2 separate regions of the Homo sapiens genome follow, and region 2 is linked to region 1. The links come from fine-mapping of genetic effects on gene expression. A gene starts in region 1. The other region holds a variant in brackets. All regions are shown on one strand. Distances are between the middles of the regions.

Region 1 (4,374 bases):
CTCTGTGAGCATCCACCAAGAGTACATATGTGCATAGCATGGTGCCATGCCTGATCTGATTGAGTCCCATCAAGAGACAGAGCACAGCTAACTAGGTGTTAGGTGATTGATGGGAGAGTGAGAAGGTTAAGTCAATCTGTCTTAGAAATGGGAAAGTTCCTGCAGGAAGCAGCTAGACCCTTAGGACTAGAGGAACAAAGGGAAGCATTGCAACTTAGAAGCTCCAATGAGTTTCCCATGGAGCTGGAACTCAGGCCCCTGAGAAGAGGGCACTGCTGAGCCAGTCCTGGGGTCTCTTAGCTGGCAGGGAAGCCCTGTGGGCCTGAGGGGGTACTGCTCAGCTGGTCTGGAGGTCTCTGTTCTCAAGAGGGTGCCCCATAGGCCTAGGAGACTCCTGAGGGGGCACTGGTGTGGGTGTCTCCAAGGGGCCCAGTGAGCCTGGTTCTGGGAGGTATGTAAAAACTGTTGCTCCTGGAAGGACCTGCTGTTGCCAAGGGGAAGAGGTGGTGCTGGCCTAGTCTCTTCTCCCTTTCCAACCCCTGTTCCAGCCTGCCCTTAACAGATCTGCAAGTGAAGAGAGGTGTTTGTAGTCTCTGCCCTGCACAGTGATGCCTAGGTGGGTAGGTCTGGAGCCCAGCCTTGTCTGGTGATGAAATCCCATGGGATTTTCCCTTGACACTGAGACCAGGGCCTCCAAGGGCTGGGAGAACACTCAATCCTCAGGGAGGTTACCAGCCTCCTGAGCACCAGTCCTCCTTGCTCCAAGTCAGCGTTAATGATTCATTCCCATGATACTACCTCTCCCACCCCAGCTCAGCTGTACAGCTACCCTTACCCTAACAGCACCCTACTCCCTAAAGTGGTCCTGAGCGGCCAAAGCTTTCTACCTTTATCTACCTATCAGTAGGAGTACCCGCTGAAGAGTTGTACTCATGGGGACATTCAGCATCTCACCCTTAGTACTAGAGGAACAAAGGGAAGCAGTGGGGTCACAGCACTTCTTACAGCTGGGAGCCAAGGATCCCACTTGGATCTGCCAACCCCCAGGTTTGTGGGTGGTACTGTGCCTAAACTTGATGCCTGCAACCTGCATGCTCCCCTCCACACCCTGTCACGGCTGTCCCCTGGGCCATGGGCCAAGCCAAACCCCAGGAAAGGACCCAGACAGGCCAGAATCTCCCTAGCCAACCAAGATTATGCGATCCAGCAGGAGCAAACTGACACCTGGTGATCCAGATTCTGCCTCAGGATGTCTTTGTAAAACTCCTTTACACCTAGGAAACCATTTCCTAGTTTTAAAACTAGAAGATTTCACCTGGAAATTCAGATTTTTCAAGACTTTCCTGTTCTCGTGTTCACAAGCAGCAGGTGATGAGGGTGTAGGACCCTGCAGATGGAACCCCAGCCAGTCTGAGAAGCAAAGGCTGCAGGCCCTGGGCCAGTTTCCCTGCCCTGTGGTGATCATTCCCATCGCTAGAGCTGAAGGCTTCTCCCACCCTGGCCCCATGCACATTGGAAGGTTTCAGTCAGGAGTAGATTCAGCAGCAAACCAGTGGAAACGCAGCTTAGGTGAAAGTGGACAGATGCTGAGAGCATAAGTTCAGCATACTGCAGGCTTCAGGGCAGCGTCTCCAGGACCCAGTGCCATTGCCTGTTTTGCCCTAGCCATCTTCCCCTTCCATCCCATTGTCCAGGTCCTTCACACAGCCCCTCTCCCCCAACCCTCCAGTGGGTGACTTGGGTGCAGGTAACACAGGCTGAAAGGCAGTTTCAAAGAAGGGGCTTGGCCTTGGCCAGAAGCCACTCCTGGGGGAGCATCTGCAGAATCAGAGGAGTGGCGCCTGGGCCCCTCCGCAGGCAAGTGCCACACCATGCGCTCACGGGGCTGGCAGTTTCCGTGGTGACGGCCGGAAGTCGCTGACCGGCAGAGTTCCGTTTCCTCCCGCCCTCCGAGGCACGCTGAGCTGTGATTGGATGGGAAGCTGACCCCCGCCTCCATCCCCTTTTCCAGATAGTGGGGGAAGCGCAGAGGCTGCAGTGCGTGTCCGCTGGAACTTGAGGCCCACGCCAATAGCGGCCCGATTCCGCCCCCACGTCGCGTTCCCCAAGTGTCCACCCCGACAGGTCTTCCCCTACACCACTGTAACCCTCCACAGTGCTTACCACTCTCTGGCACAATACATGTTTTGTTAGTTTACCTCAATCAGAATCTCCAGGAACGGGGATCTTTGGGTTTGCGATGGGACAGGGAAGGTACTCGACCTCGCACCCTCTGGGTAACGCATCTAGTCTCACTCAGGGTCTTGCCGCGATCACCCTGCCTTGTCTGTGACCCATAGGGTCAAAGGCAGGCCGGGCGGGTGGCGGCAGCAGCGGAGGTGACCACCCGCGCCGCGCTCTGCACATATATACAACTTAAGATGAAGTGACCGCGAGCAAAAGCGGCCCACGTCTGCCCCACTCAAAGATGGCGACTAACTCCGCTTCCTGCCCGGCCCCGCGAAAGTCGCCGGAAGTGACCTGCAAGGCCGCCGAAGCGTCATCTCCATGAACGGAAATGCCCGAGTCCAGCCGAAGGAGGCCGAACCCCAAACTCCATCGCTGAGCAACGCGGGTTTGCGGCGGCTGCGCAGGCGCACAACGCAGGCCGGGCGGGAAGAGCCAAAGCGGGCAGGCGGCGGAAATATCCGAAGCGGCGGGGCGCCCGAGGCCGTTGCCGACCTCCGCGCTAAAGCCGCTGCTGCCGCGGAAGACGATCCTCCAGTACCCGCCCGCCGTCACCGCAGCTGCCGTGTCCTCCTCCCACCCCTAGCCGCACCCCCTCGCGGAGGGATCAGCTGAGCGGCCAAACGGCACGGTCGGGGGAGCCCCGAGTCCGCAGCTGCAGCGGGGCCTGAGACCAGAGTTGGCGAGGGCAAGGAAGGAGCGGCCCCGGGCAGTGGGGGCGGGGCCGGGCGGGCCCGAGAACAGCCGAATTTGGCCGAGCGCTGCCGAGCGAGTCCGAGGCGCTGGGCCAGGCCGGAGCCGGACTACGGGAGCCGAGGCGGGCCGCGCGGTGGGCGCGGAGAGGAGCGGAGCGGCGCGGCAGGCCGGGCGGGTGGCGGCAGCAGCGGAGGAGGCCGCAGCTGCGGGTCCGAGGAGCGGAGGCGACGCGGGCGGCGGCGGGGGGCCGGGTGGCCGGGGTCCCGGGCCCCGCGGCGGCGGCAGCGGCGGCGGCGGCGGCAGGATGATCAAGCTGTTCTCGCTGAAGCAGCAGAAGAAGGAGGAGGAGTCGGCGGGCGGCACCAAGGGCAGCAGCAAGAAGGCGTCGGCGGCGCAGCTGCGGATCCAGAAGGGTAGGGGGTCAGGGGATGGGGTTGGAGCCGGAGGTCGGAGGTCAGGGCCTGAGGCAGGGTGATGTGGGAGTCAGGAAGGGGTAATGCGGTTGCTGAGGGTCAGAGGTGAAGGGCCCCGAGCGTGGGGGGGGTCGGAGGTCAAGTCTTGAGGGTTGGGATCATGCAGTCACGGGGAGGGGGTCAGAGATAGGGGCCCGGTATGTGGTGGTTTAGGATATTAGGAAGGCCTGGTGTCTGCTACTAGGGACTCGGAATCTCAGAGTCAGGCAGTGGAGTGGAGGAACTGACGACTCGAGAGTCTGGGGGTTAGACGGGAACTTGGGTTTGGGGTGACAGGCGGAGAAGAGAGGGATAGTAGAGGCCAGGGGTTGGGGATATGAGTGGAAGAGGATTTAGTTTATTATGCTGGGGTCTCTGGGAATCTCTGAGTCAAACGGGTGAAGTAGGTTGGAGGACCAGGGACTCATGGGCCTGCCTGAGTCACAGCAATTTGGGGTTTGGGGTGACAGGTGGAGGAGGGAAGGTTAATGAGTACCAGGGATTGGAGACAGGGGTGAGGGGAAATTTAGGCTATTGTGCTGTGAACCTCAGAGTCAGAGGGGGTGGGGTAGGGTGGCGGGGGTTGGGGACTTGAGAGTGTGGGGGTCACATGGAAAGCTGGGTCTGAGAGACAGAGAAGAGGAAGGACAGTGAGGACTGAGGGTTGGTGGGGGTGGGCAGGATCTTTGAGTTTGGGTGAACAGGTAGATACTGTAGAGTGGAGGTCATGGATGGGGAGCCTGGGGTTTAGGGCGGTCAGAGGATGTTTGGGAGTGGGGGCATTTGGGAGCTGTGGATACAGAAAAGTTGGGGGTCACCCTGGGCCAGGAGTTGGGACACGCATACACAGCTGAACATGCATGTTTGGGGTATGCTGTGTATCCACAAGAGCCAAGCTGGGGAGCAGGGAGAGGGCTGGAGGTGTGGAGCACAGCCCAGGAGAGGCGCCTGGGGGTCCAGGAGGAGACGATGGGGGCTCTGCTAACAAACACCCGCCCTA
Region 2 (4,374 bases), 78 kb after region 1:
ATGTTGGCCAGGCTGGTGTCGAACTCCAAGTGGTCCACCTGCCTTGGTCTCCCAAAGTGCTGGGAATATAGGCATGAGCCACCACACCCAGCCTACTATTATTTTTAATTTTTTTTTTTTTTTGGAGACAAGGTCTCACTATGTTGCCCAGATTGGTCTTGAACTCGTGGTCTCCCAAAGTGAAACAACATAAGTTGCCTTAAAAGAAACTTTACATTCAACCACTTCTATATGTAAACTTCTGGAGTAAGCATTGCCATGAGACAGTTGAATTAGGGAACATTTTCATGATCTTCTTTGCCATCTTGTGTATTTCAAATTTTTCTAAGTGAGCATAAATTGCTTCTAAATGTGAAAAAGTTTATTTAAAAACTGCCCTCACCCCCTGCAGCTTTTCTTGCATGATCTGGCCCTTTCACAGCCTTCTATACCCTGACTCTCCCTTCTGGGCTGGGGCCTAGCTGGAGCCCCTGGGTACTGCTCTGTCTTCTTCTTCTCTGTCCCCAGCACAGCTCTCGCCTCCTGCTTGCTCACAGATCACCCACCCCCAGCTCCATCTCCAAACTGGCCCTGCTTCCGGAGCCCTGCACATGGGAGCAACGGGTTAGAAGGCCCTCATAAAAGGGGATGGGGAAGATGGGCCTCTGAGGAGAGCCTCCCTCTCCCAGCTTCAGGCCGCAGCAGGGTTCCTGCCCCTCCCAGGGAGCCCCTCCTGGGGTAACCACAGTCGCAGCTACCCTCAACATCCACCTGCGACTTGTGCACATGCTGCACATACCAGCAGCTGGCGAGGGCTCCTTCCGAGAGGGCACCCATTTCCTGAAACCATCCCCTGTGAAAATGCCCCTTGTTTTCAGAGTAGGAAGGAGAAGAGTGCTGAATCAAGGCCCCCAAGGAGTCCCCATTCCAATCCCCAGAAGCTGTGAACATCTCAATTGGCAAAAGGGACTCTGCGGTGTGACTAAGTGTGCAGGTAGGGGACAAGATATGATGAGGGTCCTTAAGGAGGCCAAAGGATCGATGGGTGTCAGAGAGCTGGCAGCCTAAGGAAGACGTGACCAACCATGGCTGGCTTTGAAGACGGAGGAATGGACCAAGAAAAAAAAAAGGGGGAACGTGGGCTGACTCTAGAAGCTGGAAAAGGCAACAAAATGGATTATTCTCTCCTAGAGCCTTCAAGAGGAACCAGTCCTGTTAAAACCTTGATTTTGGCCGGGCGCGGTGGCTCACGCCTGTAATCCCAGCACTTTGGGAGGCCGAGGTGGGTGGATCACGAGGTCAGGAGATCGAGACCATCCTGGCTAACACGGTGAAACCCCGTCTCTACTAAAAATGCAAAAAAATTAGCCGGGCGTGGTGGCGGGTGTCTGTAGTCCCAGCTACTCAGGAGGTTGAGGCAGGAGAATGGCGTGAACCCGGGAGGCAGAGCTTGCAGTGAGCCGAGATTGTGCCACCGCACTGCAGCCTGGGCAACTGAGCGAGACTCCATCTCAGACAAAACAAAACAAAACAAAACAAAACAAAACCTTGATTTTAGCCCAGTGGGACCCATGTCAGAGTTCTGACCTTCAGAGCTATAAGAGAATCTGTTGTTTCAAGCTGCCAAGTTTGTTAAAGCAGCAACAGAAAACTAATACAGTGCATTGGCGAGTCCCCAGTGACTGCCCAGAGATCCGGTGCTTCCCAGGGAGCTGACCTTTTGCCTTCCTGCTGCATGACCAGCTAACTATGGAGGGTGCGGCCTGACCTAGAAGTACCCATGGCCTTGGCGCAACCCCTGCTTGCAGCCCCTCTTCTCAGAGGTCCCCCTTGTCCAGCCGTACTTCGAAAGGAAATCCCCTTTGTGTCTCTCAAGCCGGGACTGATGAGTTCCAAGGCCAGTGAGGCTGGTGAGTGATGTGGGCGGCAAGGAGCAAGGGAGGCTGGGGACCTGGGACCTGGGTTCTGTGGCAACAGAGGTTTGGCCGTTCTGGGCTCAACTGCCCTGTGCTGCAGCTACTGGGCAGAGACAGCAAACTGCCTATTTCCCGACCAGCAGAAGCCAGAAATCAGGATTCTTATTCAGAAACTCCATATTATGAAAGTGGAATTTATGTTAAAATTCTAACACACACAGG[G/A]AGCAGGAGAAACGGAAGCCAACTGTGCTTTCCTGGGTCTTCTGCTGCTCTCCACACTGAGACCTCAGGCCCAGCCTCTGCACAGACGAGTGGGAAGGCACAGTTTTTGAACACCCACCTGAGGCAAGGAGGTCCCAGGAGAGGGAGTGTTGTCAGCCCAGGCCATGTCACAGGGAGGGAGGGAGCCTGGTGCTTGGCAGTCACCCCACAGGCACTGGTCAGCCATAGAAGGGAACCCAGACCTCCCTCTAGGAGGCAGGGGCAAGAAGAGAGAGAGCAGCTCCTTTTCCTTGCACCCAGGTCTTTTGGGGGAGACCAGACCAGGGGCAGGGAACTGGCTTGGGACCCCTTGTTCACTCTGGCATCCCCTGCTGCCTCCAGAGTCTTCTGCTGGTGCCCCAGAGGCTGTATCCAGGCCCCGAGAACACCGAGGCCCCGAGGGACTGTGCTGTCTGGCTGCTCATGGAACCTCCGGCCGGTGGCCCTTGCGGTGGATGACCAGCTGCGACTTCCAGTCGAAGGCGCGGCCACAGTCACTGCAGAAGTGACGCCGCTGGCCTGTGTGGCTCTTGCGGTGGATGACCAGCTGCGACTTCCAGCTGAAGCTGCACCCGCACTCCTCACACGGGTAACTCCGGGGGCCTGTGAGTGAGCGTCGGGGGTGGTGCGGAAAGGCCACCTCCCCTTGTGGTGGCTTCTCTGTGCTTTCCCCGGTGGCTAGCCCCGGGGACTGCACACCTGGCCCACTCGTGTGTGTCCGGTGGTGGATGACGAACACTGACTTCCAGTCGAAGCCGCGGCCACACTGCTCGCACGTGTAGGGCTTCCTGGGGGTGGCAGCCGGCTCCAGTCTCGTCTCTGCAGGTGTGGGCTGAGTGGGCACTGGCGGTGTCCCTGGGCGCACAGTGGGGGCAGGAGTGGCAGCCCCAGACAAGCCCTCCCAGGCTGCCGGCCCTGGGCCCTGGGGCGGCTGGGCCTCTGGGCAGCCAGGTGGACCCTCACTCTCATTTCCTGGGGGCAGGGGCAAACCAGGTGAGTCCCGGCACTCAGCAACCCCTCCCTCAGGCTTGTGGCCGTGGCACAAGCTCCCGTCCCCCCATGAGTGGGTGGCTCAGGTCCCACCGATACAGGAGGGGTGATTCAGGCTGGATGGTGTGGGGCACTCACCCGAGCGCAGGCTTCTGCAGACGCCTGTCCCCGTGAGCAGCATCCCCAGCTCTGACTGGGCCTGTGCCTCTGGCTGGTGGGGCGGTAACCCTGCCCGGGTGGGGGGCACAGTTAGGCATGGGGTTTGCATGAAGGAGGGGTGGGGTCGGTTCTGGTAGGTGACAGGGTGTTCCTCTGGAAGGTGGGAGAGCTGGGTAGGGCTGGTAGCACAGAGGCCCTGCCCAGCTAGGCCTGCTGCAGGGTGGGTGCAGGCCCCAGGGAGAGGGGCGGGGTGGGGCTGGCTGGTCCTCACCCAGGGAGACCACTGTGCCGTACTTCTCCAGCATCGCATCCCAGTACAGTTCCTTCTGTGACCGGTCCAGCAGCCCCCACTCCTCCTGCGGATGTGGCCCATCACTGTAGGCGTCTTTCCACCCCTTCCCTGCCCTGTCTGGTTCACATTCTTACCTATTACCCGGAAGAGTCAGCAGGTTACCTACGCCTCATCTGCCCCTCCTGCTGAGAATGATCTCAAGGTGTGTGTTTGTTAAGTGCAGAGGTTCTCCTTCAGATCACCTGACCAGTGCTGCTGCCAGCACTCATCCCCCTCTACTACACCATCCTGCTCAGAGGGCAGGTTTGGCAGCATCACAGGGACCTGAGTGACTTTATCGAGGAATGAACTCCCTGATTGGGGGTCAGCCCTCCTTGCTGCCTGAGTCCCATCATCTGGGGCTTTGCTGGGTTGGGAAAAATAATCCTGAGGGACAAGCTGTGGCAAGTCCAGGGGCAGGAAGGCGGCAGCTGTGAGGAGCCACAGCTAGAGATGGTGCTGGCTGGAGGTGAGGACACTGGGAAGTGCAGCCTACCCACCCTGCCTCACTTTCTGACTGTGCCATGGGGCTGTGGAGGGAGCCTGGAAGGACTTCTTAGCCTCGAAACACATCTCAACCAGCAATGTTGCTGCTGAAGCTCCCCAGTGGAGTTGTTAGAGGAGCCGGGAGAGGAAAAGACCTTGCTACCCACACTTGGGAACCAAGCGATCCAGGTAGAAGAGGCCTCAAGCTGAGCTTCCAGGCCTAACAGGTGGCCTCTGAAGAAACCCCTAGGA

Evidence for each region. PIP is the estimated chance that this variant, and not a neighbour inherited with it, causes the effect.
Region 2: its variant is the best candidate, but not a certain one, in a credible set for the expression of MZF1-AS1 in esophagus muscle (GTEx, PIP 0.73).

What each region holds. Positions count from the first base shown.
Region 1 is chr19:58,557,234-58,561,607 of GRCh38, reverse strand. MZF1-AS1 (MZF1 antisense RNA 1) reads right to left here and starts at 2,422. Exons shown (of 6, transcript NR_027334.2): 1 at 2,199-2,422. UBE2M (ubiquitin conjugating enzyme E2 M) reads left to right here and starts at 2,997. Exons shown (of 6, transcript NM_003969.4): 1 at 2,997-3,335. The coding sequence starts at 3,227. RefSeq lists enhancers at 1,641-2,237, 2,383-2,642 and a silencer at 2,773-3,072.
Region 2 is chr19:58,478,930-58,483,303 of GRCh38, reverse strand. It overlaps ZNF446 (zinc finger protein 446), which reads right to left. Exons shown (of 7, transcript NM_017908.4): 5 at 3,577-3,661; 6 at 3,285-3,374; 7 at 2,074-3,128. The coding sequence ends at 2,578. It overlaps LOC112268251 (a long non-coding RNA gene), which reads left to right. Exons shown (of 3, transcript XR_007067366.1): 2 at 858-1,889; 3 at 2,117-2,207. Among named protein-coding and RNA genes, the nearest start is that of ZNF446, 4.8 kb to the right of the region's middle. The variant G/A (reference allele first, on the strand shown) is at 2,118.